Homo sapiens: one gene and its partners. The protein of the gene in region 2 purifies or fractionates together with the protein of the main gene of each other region. This does not show direct contact. Each region holds a gene or a part of one and is shown on either strand. Other genes may lie near its edges.

Region 1 (3,500 bases), about 72 Mb from region 2:
TTACCACCTGCTGACTCTACAGAACAGCCTTCTAAGTCTTTAAATAGAATGGTCTCTCCATCCTTACAACAAAGTACTGAAAGTAACTTGTGTACACTTCCACTCTGCCTGCTGGTTTGCATTAACAGCTTTAACCATCAGAGCCACTGATGTAAGAGTTTCGTTAACTCTAGCATACACTTGTAAGAAAGAAGACTCAGAGGCTGGGTGCGGCGGCTCACGCCTGTAATCCCAGCACTTTGGGAGGCCGAGGCAGGCAGATCACTTGAGGTCAGGAGTTCGAGACCAGCCTGACCAATATGGTGAAACCCCATCTCTACTAAAAATAAAAAAATTAGTTGGGCAGGGTGGCGGGGGCCTGTAATCCCAGCTACTTGGGGCTCTGAGGCAGGAGAATTGCTTGAACCCAGGAGGCAGAGGTTGCACCGAGCTAAGATTGTGCCACTGCACTCCAGCCTGGGCAACAGAGCAAGACTGACTCTATCTCAAAAAAAAAAAAAAAAAAAAAGACTCAGACTCTAACACTTCTCTTGGTTCCCTAATTAACAAAATACATCTGAGAACAAATGACAAACTCCAAATATCATGGGAATATTTTTTTCGTCTTTACTGCAGTCACTGTTTTTGTTAAAAGCCTATTAAATTTTATAAATGGAAGCGCTGTTTGTCCAAAGGTATGTACGATTATAATCGTTTAATAGAAAGCTCTATATGAGATTGTGGATAATGTTCAGCATAACTATTTAGCTAAAGTAATAATAATGTGTATGTTCCATCTTATAGACACAAGCTGGTGAGGGCAGAGTGTATAAGTGCCTCTTTAACCATAAATTTGAAGAATCCATGAGTGAAAAGGTAAGTATTATTTTGAAACTAATGAATGTTTTATTTGTTTTTTAAAAGCTTTCTCAGCCAGACACGGTGGCTCACGCCTGTAATCCCAGCACTTTGGGAGGCTGAGGCAGGTGGATCACGAGGTCAGGAGTTCAAGACCAGCCTGGCCAAGATGGTGAAACGCCGTCTCTACTAAAAATACAAAAATTAGTCGGCCGTGGTGGTGGGCGCCTGTAATCCCAGCTACTCGGGAGGCTGAAGCAGGAAAATCACTTGAACCCAGGAGGTGGAGGTTGCAGTGAGCTGAGATCGCACCACTGCACTCCAGCCTGGGTGACAGAGTGAGACTCTGTCTCAAAAAAAAAAAAAAAAAAAAAGCTTTCTCAATTTCTCTGAAACAATATTTCTTATAATCTTATACCGAAACGTAAATGACTGATAAAGCTCACCGCTTTCAGAGGTGAGGTACTTGGGTTTTAAGCATATTTGGCTGAAACCAAGAAAATGAAACCCTGATTGTGATATCTAGATAGTGAGAAGCCAAGTAGGGTTCTCACTGTGGTGGTTTTTTTAGGTGTTTTTGTTTTGTTTTGTTTTTGTTTTTTTTTGAGTGGAGTCTTTCTCTGTCACCCAGGCTGGGGTGCAGTGGCATGATTCGGCTCACTGTAGCCTCTGCCTGCCGGGTTCAAGCAAGTCTCCTGCCTCAGCCTCCCTAGTAGCTATGACTACAGGCACCTGACAACACGCCCAGCTAATTTTTGTATTTTTAGTAGAGACGGGGTTTCACCATGTTGGCCAAGCTGCTCTCAAACTCCTGACCTCAGGTGATCCACCCGCCTCTCACTGTGGTTTTATATAAAATCCTCAGTGTGATTTTATATAAAATTCTCAGATATTACTTTGTTTGGGGAGTAAAATCAGAGAATTTTATATAAAACCACACTAAGGCCAGCCCTGCCTCCTCAAGAAGTTTAGGTTAACCAAATCAATGTGCTTTCTAGGCAATTAGCTATTTAATTTTTCAGCAGCTATATCATTAAGCATCCTCTTTTAGTTCTTTGTCCCTGAATGAATGCAAGAATAGTTGATGGCTTTTGAAATAATTAATTTTGCTATCTTGTCATTTACTTTCCTGTGTAGCTGAAGAAATGTTTCTCATTTCCTTTTTCTTGTATCATTTGAACAATCTTATTCAAATCTTATTATTCAGATGATATAGAATAATTGAATAATTGTATTTTAAAGCATTGAACAGAATATCCCAAATGTTATGTTAGTTGCCAGTTTGATGCTAGTGAAATTTATGTTCGGGGTATTGTTAAAGTGGAAAAGAATGCTGTGTGTCAAGTTAACATATTGGGATCTGTGAGATATTTACATGTTTTGGATAGCTGCTATTGCAGCAACAACTAGCAAGTGACTACAGAATTTCTAGGTTCCCCACCCACTTACCCCTGTCTCATGCCACACTAGTTTAGCTCAATTGTGAACATTTTAACCAAACTTAAAGATAGATATGTTGGTAATAACTGCAGTTGTTGACATGTACTTGGCTGAGTCGCTGTGCTCATCTTAGTGGTACACGTCAACAGTAAAGTTACATGAGTGGTCTCACGGCTGTTGCTGTACTCTTTCCTCAGTGTCGAGAAGCACTTACAACCCGCCAAAAGCTGATTGCCCAGGATTATAAAGTCAGTTATTCATTGGCCAAATCCTGTAAAAGTGACTTGAAGAAATACCGGTGCAATGTGGAAAACCTTCCGCGATCGCGTGAAGCCAGGCTCTCCTACTTGTTAATGTGCCTGGAGTCAGCTGTACACAGAGGTAGCATTCATATTTTTTTTTTAATTATCATTTCTGTTCCTTTTTGGATTCACACTCTAAAGCTTTATATATATAAACGTTAGTTTCCTCCCATATTTGCTTCTTTGAGTATTTTTCTTTTTTTTTTTTTTTTCTTGAGACGGAGTCTCTCGCTCTGTCGCCCAGGCTGGAGGGCAGTGGCGCAATCTCGGCTCACTGCAAGCTCCGCCTTCCGTGTTCACGCCATTCTCCTGCCTCAGCCTCCCAAGTAGCTGGGATTACAGGCGAGTGCCACTGCGCCTGGCTAATTCTTGTATTTTTAGTAGAGATGGGGTTTCACCATGTTGGTCAGGCTGGTCTCGAACTCCCAAACTTAGGTGATCCGCCCACCTTGGCCTCTCAAAGTGCTTGGATTATAGGTGTGAGCCACCGCACCTAGCAATTTTTTTTTTTTTTTAATAGAGATGAGGTTTTGCCACGTTGGCATCCCGGGTCTCAAAACTCCTGCCCTCACGTGATCCTCCCACCTTAGCTCCCAGAGTGCTAGGATTACAGGCGTGAGCCACTGTGCCCAGCTGAATAGTTTTCTTGTCTTTTCTTTTTTTTTTTTTTGAGACAGAGTCTCGCTTTGTCACCAGGCTGTAGTGCAGTGGCACAATCTCAGCTCACTGCTACCTCCGACTCCCTAGTTCAGCCTCTGGAATAGCTTGGATTACAGGCACGCACCACTATGCCCAGCTAATTTTTGTATTTTTAGTAGAGATGGGATTTCACCATGTTGGCCATGATAGTCTCGATCTCCTGACCTCGTGATCTGCCTGCCTCGGCCTCCCAAAGTGCTGGGATTACAGGCGTGAGCCACT
Region 2 (3,500 bases):
GAAAAGGCTAGGGATATTCATTGTACTATGCTTTCAACTATTCTTCGGTTTTGAAATTTTTCAGAACAAAAATTAGTGGAGAAAGGTTCATCCTCAGTCCAGTAAGTTCCAGGAGACAGAGCCAGACCTACCTTATTCACCACTGTTTCTCCACTGCTAGCTCAATGTGTGGTCCTCATCCCACTGGCCCAGGAAACCACTGCTAATATTTCTGTGGGAACCTCCCTCCAAGCTTTTCCCTGGGCCTGAGGAAAGTTATACTGGGCATGCTGCTTTGCAACCAGGTCTCTTCAGGTAGAAACACTTTGTAACCACCTATCAGGAGAGTACATACAGTCTGCCATCCCCAACCATAGGTTGACTCCACATGCATGGATTCAACCAACAGTGGATAGAAAATATTAGAAAAACAAGAAATTGCATCTGTACTGAACATGCACAGACTTTTTTTTATTGTCATGATTCCCTAAAGAATATAGTAAAGCAGGCCGGGCACGGTGGCTCACGCCTGTAATCCCACCACTTTGGGGGGCCGAGGTGGGCGGATCACCTGAGGTCAGGAGCTCGAGACCAGCCTGGCCAACATGGCAAAACCCGGTCTCTACTAAAATTACAAAAAAAAAAAAAAAAAATTAGCCGGGTGCGGTGGCACGTGCCTGTAATCCCAGCTACTCAGGAGGCTGAAGTAGGAGAATTGCTTCAACCTGAAAGACGGAGGTTGCGGTGAGCCGAGATCGTGCCACTGCACTCCAGCCTGGGCGACAGAGCAAGATTCTGTCTCAAAAACAAAAAACAAATAACAAAAAACCCAGCAGACTGGTCAGAAAAGACTGTACAGCCACAGGGGTTTCCATGTAGGGAAATTTCTCTAGGCAAGGAGGAAAAGCCTGAAGAAGACAAGAACTGCTGAGAACAGGGCAGCAGGGAACATCCTGGACCCACCTGGGCCGCACAGGCTGGAAAGAGAGGCCGTGGCCGGGCATCCGAGCCTGGGCCCCTCACAGAGGAGGAACAAAGTGACAGGCCAGGAGAGGAGGGGAAGATGCAGGAGTGCTGGCATCTGGGGACCAGCCAGCAAGTCCTTGGAGCCCTCCCTCACCAGAAAAGGGGAAGCAGGAAGGACAGCGGCAATGGCCAGAGTGAGGAGAATGCAGCGTCCTGCAGCTCCATGGAGTGAGCGCCTCCTTCACGGAGCAGCCCTGGCCGCCCTGCAACTGAGGCCGCGGCACCGAGGGTCCCGCCAATGCAGCAAGGGGCGAGAGACACCACACCTAAGACTCAGGAGCAAGGTCCTGTCCCCGCTCCCAACCCCGGGGCTCCTGGAATCACCGAGGCAGAACTGAAAAGTGAGTGCGGGCCCCTTTCCCACATGTTCCACTGCAAAGGTCAACACACGCCAGGCGCATTTCAGTGAGGCTTCAAGTCTTCCCTGCAAATCTCATCAGCCTTTTCTGATGGCATTCAATGCACAGCGGTCACTTTCAGCTACAACCCCTTCCTACTGCAGTCGAATTAATTCCAAAAGGGAAAAAACAGGTTAAAGAATGGGACTTTAACGATGAATTTATTGCAAAAAATAAGCCCATAGCCAGAAGAATCCTGACTGGCATCCTGCTGAGACACACAGCCTCTCCTCAGCCCTCTCCAGCACGGGGAGAGGGCACTGTCACCAGCTCCGCAAACACGCAGGAGACGGGGACCTCCAGAACTAACGTCCTTGGTCTCCAGACCTACCTTCAAACCTCATCTTTAAATATTTCGAATCCCTGCGTGCTACAAGCTGACTTGAAACACAGATTGGGCCGGTCCCAGCACGGTGGCTGGTAGAGAGGGCATCTGATCTTGTCTGTGGAATGACGGAAGTCACTGGACTGTCCAGGAACTACATGCCCACCTTCATCAGATGGAAACCACACACTTGTTTATTCTGCAGGGGGCCGTGTGCTCAACAGTGAGCTGCTAATGTCAGGCTTGTCCATCTTTTTCATACACAGGCTCTACAGTACTGTCAGTTCCCAATTCTGTGGGTCCCTGTATAATCCAACTCTTTAAACAGAAACCAGGCTGGGTGCGGCGGCTCATGCCTGTAATCCCAGCACTTTGGGAGGCCGAGGCGGGAGGATCCCTTGAGACCAGAAGTTTGAGTAGCCTGGGCAACATAGTGAGACCTCATCTCAATAAATAAATTAAATAAATAAATAATGTAGGTGGTGCGCACCTGTAATCCCAGCTACTTGGGAGCCTGAGGCACGAGAATCACTTGAACCCATGAGGCGGAGGTTGCAGTGAGCCAAAATCATGCCACTGTACTCCAGCCTGCGTGACAGAACGAGACTGTCTCGAAAAAATAAATAAATAAACAAACAGAAACCAGAATCAGGTGCTCTTATAAGGGATGTGTAGCCCAGAAACTCAATCTTAACACATTCTAAATGACCTGGAATTTCTTGGAGCAAAAATTCCAGTTTAAATATCAGGAAAATTGTCTAGACTAAGAGAATGGAAACGGACTTTGTGCAACCAACATCAGGTACAGAAAAGAGACCCCAACAATCATCATGAACCCAAACAGGCCTTTCTCCTCACTAAGAGAAGAGAACACACACAACCCATGCCTTGTTACTCTTTGAGAAGATGTGCCCTGCCTGTGATCTAGCAGCTAGAGACGGAACATACAACCTGTTCTCAATATTCAAATAATTTTTTAAAGGACATGGTATCACACTGAGCAAGTGAATAATGCAATTCTGCTGTAGAAGAATGCACGGCTGAAAAGACCTGAGCAACTCATGTCCAAAACTTGCAGTTTCCACAGCAGCACTTCCTCCCAGCACACTGCCCTTTGAACCTGCTTTCTAAACAACTGTGCTGGGCAGCCCAGTGGCCACATGTCATCGCACAGCAGGTGTGGAGCAGCATAGAGCACCCTGGCCCTCGCACCTGCTTGGGGGACTGTTTCTGCACCCAGGGCTTCTCTGCAGCCACAACCTGCCCCACACAGAACTGCAGCACCACGTGGCATCCTGTCCATTTCCTCAGAAGGGGAAAGTGCCACGCCAGTGCCCACTCTCTTCCAAACACATCCTCTCAGAAGGGACTGGCCACGCTTGCCCCCTCATTTCTGCAGCGCTTCCCAGTTCATCACCTGCTTGCCAGACTCCGTCTCCCACCGGTGTCAATCAGCTGCCCTGGAGCATCTAAACCCTGGGTCAGGCGGCTCAGGGGATGAGTGCATAGACTGAAAAAGGAACACTCCCTGTTTCTCCCCAAAACTGTGCTGAAGGCAGTCTAGAGGGCCAAGACCTGTCAAGAAGAGCTGCCCAAGGCCTCTTTTCAGGCCCCACATCTCTGCAGGCTGCTGCTGGATCCTTCTCATAAGAACACATCTCAGAAAAGCAGAACAAACCACTTCCCTCTTACCACTGGGAGCTCACCTTGCCAGCTCTAGACTCAGCTTGGACTGGCTGTCAGGGCAACGTTGCGTACAGGAATACATCACA
Region 3 (4,154 bases), on a different chromosome or scaffold from region 2:
GCGGGCGTGGGAAGGGTTGGAATACATTTTTGCTCACACACACAATGGTATATACTATTTCAGGAGGTGCACAGACCCTTTTTGTACCCTCAGATCCCCCTATATTTGAAGATTCTGATTCAAACCAACCTCCTTAAGAAACTGAGGCCCCAGTTTCAGACGACTTTCCCCCAGTGCCAGTCAACAGGCACACCAGCAGAGTCCAGATAGAGCCCAGTTCTTCCGATCTCCCCCAATACATACACACACACACACACACACACACACACACACACACACACACACACCGCACTGAGGTGGAGGAGGTGGGAGAATGGTTTTAATCAATACTCAACACTTCAGTACCTCAGGGTTACTGGCTTATCTCCTGATAAGCCCTCAGGAGTCTTACTTATAGCAAAACCTCTAGGCCTTTACTGTGGAGAGGCCTTTGCAACACTCAAATCCCAGGACCTTGTAACTGAACCTTTCCAATCAAAGGAGATCAAGAAACTCAAGGCGGGGGGAGTGGGGAGGGACAGCATTAGGAGATATACCTAATGCTAAATGACGAGTTAATGGGTGCAGCACACCAGCATGGCACATGTATACATATGTAACTAACCTGCACATTGTGCACATGTACCCTAAACTTAAAGTATAATAATAATAATAATAAAAAGATGATTATTACAAAAAGACAAAAGATAACAAGTGTTGGTGAGGATGTAGAGAAAAGGGAACCCTCGTACACTATTGGTGAAAATGTAAACTGGTACAGCCATTTTGAAAAATAATGAGGCAGTTCCTCCAAAAATTAAAAATATAACTACCATATGATCCAGCAATTTCTCTTCTGGACATATATCCCAAAGAAATAAAAAAAGTATTTCAAAGAGAAAAAAAAAAAAGAAAACTCAAGGCCTCCATGGCCTACCTGGGGAGTCACATAACTCACCCTGGCTCAGCCCTGGGTCCCAAGCTTACAGCAGTTGGCAAGGAAGAGTGTTCAGTGCAATAACAGGCAATACCACTCATATGCCCTCCACTCTGAGGAAATAACCTCTATTTAGAGACTAAACAAAGGTGCCTCTTGCAAGTCTAAAAAAGAAAAGAAGCTACAAAGGTTGCCCACCAGTCAAAGAACCTAATCATCTCAGTCTATATTCATTTGTGAACTCCTCCTCTCACTAGACACTAAGAGATTATCCGCTTAAGGTTCAATAGTTTTTTGTTTGAGACAGAATCTCACTGTGTTGCCCAGGCTGGAGTGCAGGGGCGCGATCTCAGCTCACTGCAACCTCTGCCTTCCGGTTCAGGCGATTCTCCTGCCTCAGCCTCCAAAAGTAGCTGTGACTACAGACATGCACCACCACTCCCGGCTAATTTTTGTATTTTTAATAGAGACGGGGTTTCACCATGTTGGCCAGGCTGGTCTCGAACTCCTGGCCTCAAGTGATCCATCCACCTCAGCATCCCAAAACGCTGGGACTGCAGTCGTGCACCACCACACCCGGCCTCAATAGAATTTTCAAGAAAGGAACACAGGGTTATAAGAGAAAGCACCTGAACAAGACCATGGAGCTTTTGTAGAAGACCTTTCACATTGCAAGCTAAAGTCAACTGTGGCCCCTCTCATAATGACTTTCAGTCTGCCTTCAAATAGTTTAACAAAGGTTTTTTGTTTGTTTTTAAGTACTATAAACAAGACAGAACCCTTACAACTGATAACAAAGTCCCCAGGAACAGTGAGTGAGTGAGAGAGAGAGAGAGAGAGAGAGGGAGAGAGAGAGAGAGAGAGATATCCAGGACCCCCAAGAGAATTGATGGGGTTAATGTGAGTCAAAAGCACTATGAGTCACATCAGGGGGACAGGCCCACTGGCAGCGAGATAACTTCAGAAACTGGAGCAGGTGTGAGCCCCCTGGGATGCAGCCAGGCAGAAAACTTGGAAAGGGTGGCATGCTCGGGTGAAAGGGATTAGGGAGAGCTAGACACGCTCTGGAGTCTAAGGCCCTCAGGCCTTAACTGTGCCAGCTGGGAAGATTACATATACAAAAAGGCATCCTCCCTTACCCACGTGGCCCAATCAAAGCACCCAGCCTCTTATAAGGGCTTTGCGGCTCATTAAAGTTAAGTTCAAATTGGCACCAGGGTCCTAGACGCACAGTCCTAGGGTCCTGGGAGCCAAAAGGTACCCTGTAATCTCTGCCAATGTTACAACAAACTTAAGTAAGAGCCGAAGTAGGTCAAGCATTTAATCCTAAAAATGTTCTCCAAAGGAAGATGAAGGGCTAGAGGTAACATAGAACTCCAAATATTATCTTTCTGACAAGGGGCTACCCCGACGCGGCTACCAACCACACCCCGGATGAGCAAGGCCAAAGGAATTTTAGGGAACACCCAACTTCCTCCCTTAAAAGTGCTGCTTTGCTTTTAATATCAAACTCAGTGCTAGAAGTCGCCAAAGTGGGGGCGAGGTTCTCCCAACCAAAGGCCGGCGGGCTTATGTCCGGTCGGAGGTACAGTGGGCGAGCGCCCCTTATCATAGAGCCCAAATGCCCATGCGTGGCCCACTTCTTCCGCCGGGGCCAGCCCGAAGCTCTAGGGGAAGACGATGGCACCCCAGGCTACCGCCCTGCCAGCCCCTTCCACGCCCCGCCACCTACCGCAGTGCTGCCCGCCTCATTGCGCTAGGCTGCCGTGCGCGCGATGGAGAACCGGGCCCCGCGCGCTAGTCGGCGGAGGGAAACTGAGGCGATAAAAGACGCACGAGTACCAGACCGCGCCCTTGCTGAGGACAGCCCGGGAGCCGGACAGCGGTGTCCGGGGGCGGGACCGCGGCGTCCAGGGGGCGTGGCCGCGCTGTGCCGGGCGGACCCTACCCGTTCATTGGCGGGAGGCTGGAGTCCGCCTCTGCGGAGCTTCCCACTCAATCAGTTGTGCGGGTCGTGTTGCTACAGCGAGGACCGGCCTATTCTCGGTTGAGTAAACGAACCACGCAGCAACGCCAGGGCGTGACGTCGAGAAGAGGCCCGGCTCTGCCTAGTGGAGCTTGTCTCCTTTATCCTTGATCCCCGCGCCTTGGCTCCGTCTGTTCTTCCCCTTGGCTGCACATTGGAATCTCCTGGGCAACTTTCCAAAATACTGATACTTGGCCGGGCGCGGTGGCTCACGCCTGTAATTCCAGCACTTTGGAAGGCCTAGGCGGGCAGATCACCTGAGGTCAGGAGTTCAAGACCAGCCTGGCCAACATGGCGAAACCCTGTCTCTACTAAAAATTCAAAAATTAGCCAGGCGTGGTGGCAGACGCCTGTAATCCCAGCTACTCGGGGGACAGGCACGAGTATCGCTTGAACCTGGGAGGCGGAGGTTGCGGTGAGCCGAGATCGCACCACTACACTTCAGCTTGGGCGACAGAAGGAGACAATGTCTCAAAAAAAAAACAACAAAAAACTGATGCTTGAGACCCACTGGCTGGAGATTCTAGTTTAGTCCTGGGTGCGGTCTGGGCTTCGGGATGATGTCTAAAGATGCCCCCAGGTGATGCTAATGTAACCAAAGGCTAAAAACCACTGACCTAACAGGAAAAAATTGTTCCTCTCCTCTTCTCGGCCTGACCCCCAATGTTTGATATCTTGGGCGAGCTAGAGAGATTCAAGGCCAGAGAGTTTAAGATTATTTCACCCTACGATCTAATTCTCCATTTCTTTCAACGAATTATTATTGAGCTGTTTGCATTGTGCCAGGCACTATTGCAGAGGTTGGGGTTGCAAAAAGAAAAAAGGACAAAAATCCCCGCCCTTAAGGGGCTTGCCTCTTGATAAGGAAGGAAAACAAATCAACAAACAAGTTAGCAAATAACATGATCTCAAATATGGTAAAGCGGTTTAAAGGGGAAATAAGGTAACGAGTGGGGATCTTTTGAGAATATAAGCAAGTCTTGCTTTGCCTCTAAATACGGCAATTTCCTAAAAGGCAAGGGCCATATGCTTTTTCGCAATACCCCATACTTAGTAAAAATGTATTGATTTGAATTAAGCTAGCTTTCTGTTTTGAATCACTTCATGAGTTACACATGGAGCATGGTCTTCGGCTTTCTCTTTCTACTGAATTTTCCCTGCTTTTATCAATCTCACATCTGGAAGACTCCCCTTTTAGCCTACAAGGATCTC
Region 4 (3,500 bases), on a different chromosome or scaffold from region 2:
AATTAATGAGAGCTATTCTTTGATAAACAGCTGAGGGATTTGAGTAGTTTTATGCAGTAATAATTGAGCCAGGCTAGGGTGAAACCTAGTGAATTTTCCCTCTGCTGTTCTGAAATACGCATCTCTGGTACTCTGGTATCATCTTCTTTTTTTTTTTTTTTGAGACAGAGTCTCACTCTGGAGTGCAGTGACGCGATCTCGGCTCACTGCAACCTCCACTGCCCGGGTTCAAGTGATTCTCCTGCCTCAGCCTCCCAAGTAGCAGGGATTACAGGCACCTGCCAACGCACCCGGCTAATTTTTGTATTTTTAGTAGAGATGGGGTTTCACCATCTTGACCAGGCTGGTCTTGAACTCCTGACCTCGTGACCCACCTGCCTCAGCCTCCCAAAGTGCTGGGATTACAGGCGTGAGCCGCTGCACCTGGCCTCTGGTATCTTCTAAATACAATTTTTGCTGTTCTTTTTCTGGTACGTAGCTGAGTGAATACTTACGTTCTTATGTTCTACTTTTGATTTGTTTCTTTGTTTTGCATTTATCATTATTTATGAAAAATTTCTCTTATTTCAGTATTTCTCCCAGCAGACATACTATAATTTTCTACATTCCAGCAAATTTTTCATTAGTATGATAAATTGATGTCTTGCATTTGAAGACAGGTATTGTTGGCCCCTAGCTAAGATTTAGGAAACAACCTAATCTTAGATAAAATCAGCAGCTTACTTAAATTGTCTTAAGTGGAGACTTTTAACAAATGCCTAATCTCATCTATTTTATTTTATTGTTAGTTTGTATTTTGAATGCCATTTTTTTACAGTCCTAAATTTCTGAAGGCGAGTAGCCTTCCATTTACTGATTATATTTTATGTGCTTTTAAAATCCAGCTCTATAACGTGTTTTCTAGCTTTTTGAGCATTTATTTTCTAGTACTTATTTCTAAATTTAGCCTTTCTATTCTACCTTACGTATGCATCTGCAGCACTTTTGACAGTCTTTTAGATTAAGTACAATATTATTTTTCCCCCAGCATTTTGAAGGTAGAACATCAAGGTGCAACACTAACCAGTTTGTGTTTGTGCATCCCAAGGTCAGAAACTATATCAAGGAACATAGCCCTCGCCAACGGCCTGCAAGAGAGGCCTGGAAGAGAAGCAACTTTAGTTGTGCAAGCACCAGTGGAGTGAGCGGTGCCAGTGCCAGCGCCAGCAGCAGCAGTGCCAGCATGGTCAGTTCTGCAAGCAGCAGTGGGTCCAGTGTTGGAAACTCTGCTTCAAACTCCAGTGCCAACATGAGTCGAGCACACAGTGACAGCAACCTGTCTGCAAGTGCAGCAGAGCGGATTCGGGATTCAAAAGTAAAACGTCTAATCAATACAAAACTTTACCTTTCAATATTAACATTAGTACTCCTTCATATAAATTTCTTGAAGAGTTAAAATGATCCTGCTGTCTAGTTGCCTGTGGGTTTTGGTCTTAATTGAACAAGCAGGATGCTCTGCTGTTGAACAAAGCACTCTAGGCTGAGTGCTTTGAAATGCTGTTTTGACCCACAACCATATTGCATTCAATCTTACCTGATTTTTGTGTATGTTTTAAGTAAGATAAATTGGTGGAAATAATGAGTTATTCTCAAGATTGCAATATTGACTGCAACTCACTACTGAGCGAATCTCACTACGTTGCTGATGTTGCTGTCTATTAGCTCCTAAGAATGTTGTGTATGTCTTTTGTGTGTGTTAAATGTTTTCTTAATGTTTTAATCTTAAATGTTTCTTCTTAGCTAATTTAAAAATCTAATACTTTCTATAATTTCTGTCTACTCTTTTCACAGTTGAGAAAGTTCTGTATAATATTGTCGGGCACTTAAAAAAAAAAAGAAGGTATAAGTATATTTAGAATGGTCCTGTGGCTTAGCAGGGGAGTTTGATTCCTTGCAATGGCAAGAATCTGGAGCCAGTTTAAAGATGATAAGAGAATCTCTCTAACTCTTTAGTGACCCAGTGGTGACTTGAAGATACACAATGATTCTTTCCCTGGTTCTTAGGGAAGTAGCAGAAACATAGCCAGTTTTGTTGCTAAGGAATTTCTCTAGATATGTGGTCATTCCTTTTTATTATCAGTTCACCGGTGACAAGGATGGGAGTATCCACTGAGTTTCTGATGGATTTTTAAGATGGTATTCGCCTACTACAAAAAAGGCATGATTTTTTTTTTACCTGCCATTGTAAGATTGCTAGTGTTTTTGGATGAAAGGCACCTGAGAATCATAAGTATTAGAGATTTGGGCAATGTTCTCCACAGGTGTATTCAGTATTGTCGCCTAGTATTAATTATGTGTTCATTATGCATTTGTACCAATGTACCTTAATGGAATTTAAAAAAGAAGTCTTTGAAGTGACTTTTTATCTATCACTAGCCAAAATGATCGTCTCAACTCTTCCTAATCAGAAGAGTCACTGGTCAAATACCACAAAATTGGAATCTTAATCATTTTTAAGCCTAAGCCAGTGGCTCACTTATTGGAACAAGGATCATACTACAGAAGGATTTGAACAGCTCTTAAAGTTAGAAAATAGAGAATTTGATCCACAAAACATTTTGGGGTGGATATGCCAAAAACTAAACCAAACTGATTTAGAAATTTTTATTTTGACAGAAGCGATCCAAGCAGCGGAAGTTACAGCAGAAGGCCTTCCGCAAGAGGCAGCTGAAGGAGCAGAGGCAGGCCCGGAAGGAGAGGCTCAGTGGGCTCTTCCTTAACGAAGAGGTGCTGTCCTTGAAAGTGACTGAGGAAGACCATGAAGCAGATGTTGATGTTTTGATGTAATAAGGGTGAATTTATCAACGTTCTTTGTGAGCATTAAAATACTCCATCCTTATGGGTTTACATGCATCTTGACCAAAATTTTGGTTAGGGCTGTGCTGATGTACCATTAATAATTTAAGCCAGTGGTTCTTGGCAGGTGATCCCAAGACCTGCAGCTTCAGCATCACTTGAGAAGTTGTTAGGAATGCATACTAGTGGGCCCCGCCCCCAGACATAGTGAATCAGAAACCAACAGGGAGGCGCCTAGCATTGTTTTTTTAACAAGTGCTGGGTTATTCTGATGCACAGTCTAGTTTAAGAACCACTACTTTGGGTAAACGTTTTGACTGTTTAAAGTTTATGGCGGTGAAGTGGGCGTCTTCAAAGACTAGTACTTACACAGTTTAGAAGATTTCAAGGTACTGCTGACAGTAGTTTATTATGTCAGTATACATACATGTGTAGAGATCATAATTTAGTTCCCTTCTTAATGTTACAATTTCTTAGTTTACTTTTCCTAAAGGGCCATAGCATAATTCTTGATTCCTGGTGGAAATCTTTTCTGAGGTGTGGGGGTGGGCAAGGTGTGGATTGCTGTTTACGATAGTGCCTTCATTAGTTTTAGTTCTGTCTGTTTTCATTCATTATTGACTCAAAGGTATTAGAACAGGCCCTTATCTTTTTCCTATTAGATT

Evidence for each region.
Region 1: the proteins of PDPK1 (region 2) and GLG1 purify together in Homo sapiens (affinity purification with mass spectrometry; 2 studies listed by BioGRID and IntAct, with this or other methods). This does not show direct contact.
Region 3: the proteins of PDPK1 (region 2) and ACOT9 purify together in Homo sapiens (affinity purification with mass spectrometry; 2 studies listed by BioGRID and IntAct, with this or other methods). This does not show direct contact.
Region 4: the proteins of PDPK1 (region 2) and FAM199X purify together in Homo sapiens (affinity purification with mass spectrometry; 2 studies listed by BioGRID and IntAct, with this or other methods). This does not show direct contact.

What each region holds. Positions count from the first base shown.
Region 1 is NC_000016.10:74,492,115-74,495,614, reverse strand, and holds part of GLG1 (Golgi apparatus protein 1 isoform 3 precursor), read left to right. Parts: intron 1-783; coding exon 784-855; intron 856-2,474; coding exon 2,475-2,658; intron 2,659-3,500. UniProt on the Homo sapiens protein: Binds fibroblast growth factor and E-selectin (cell-adhesion lectin on endothelial cells mediating the binding of neutrophils).
Region 2 is NC_000016.10:2,541,021-2,544,520, reverse strand, and holds part of PDPK1 (3-phosphoinositide-dependent protein kinase 1), read right to left. Parts: intron 1-3,500. UniProt on the Homo sapiens protein: Serine/threonine kinase which acts as a master kinase, phosphorylating and activating a subgroup of the AGC family of protein kinases.
Region 3 is NC_000023.11:23,740,477-23,744,630, forward strand, and holds the start of ACOT9 (acyl-coenzyme A thioesterase 9, mitochondrial isoform a precursor), read right to left. Parts: upstream 2,801-4,154; 5' UTR 2,669-2,800; coding exon 2,649-2,668; intron 1-2,648. UniProt on the Homo sapiens protein: Mitochondrial acyl-CoA thioesterase. Catalyzes the hydrolysis of acyl-CoAs into free fatty acids and coenzyme A (CoA), regulating their respective intracellular levels. Regulates both mitochondrial lipid and amino acid metabolism.
Region 4 is NC_000023.11:104,186,953-104,190,452, forward strand, and holds part of FAM199X (protein FAM199X), read left to right. Parts: intron 1-1,087; coding exon 1,088-1,354; intron 1,355-2,655; coding exon 2,656-2,826; 3' UTR 2,827-3,500.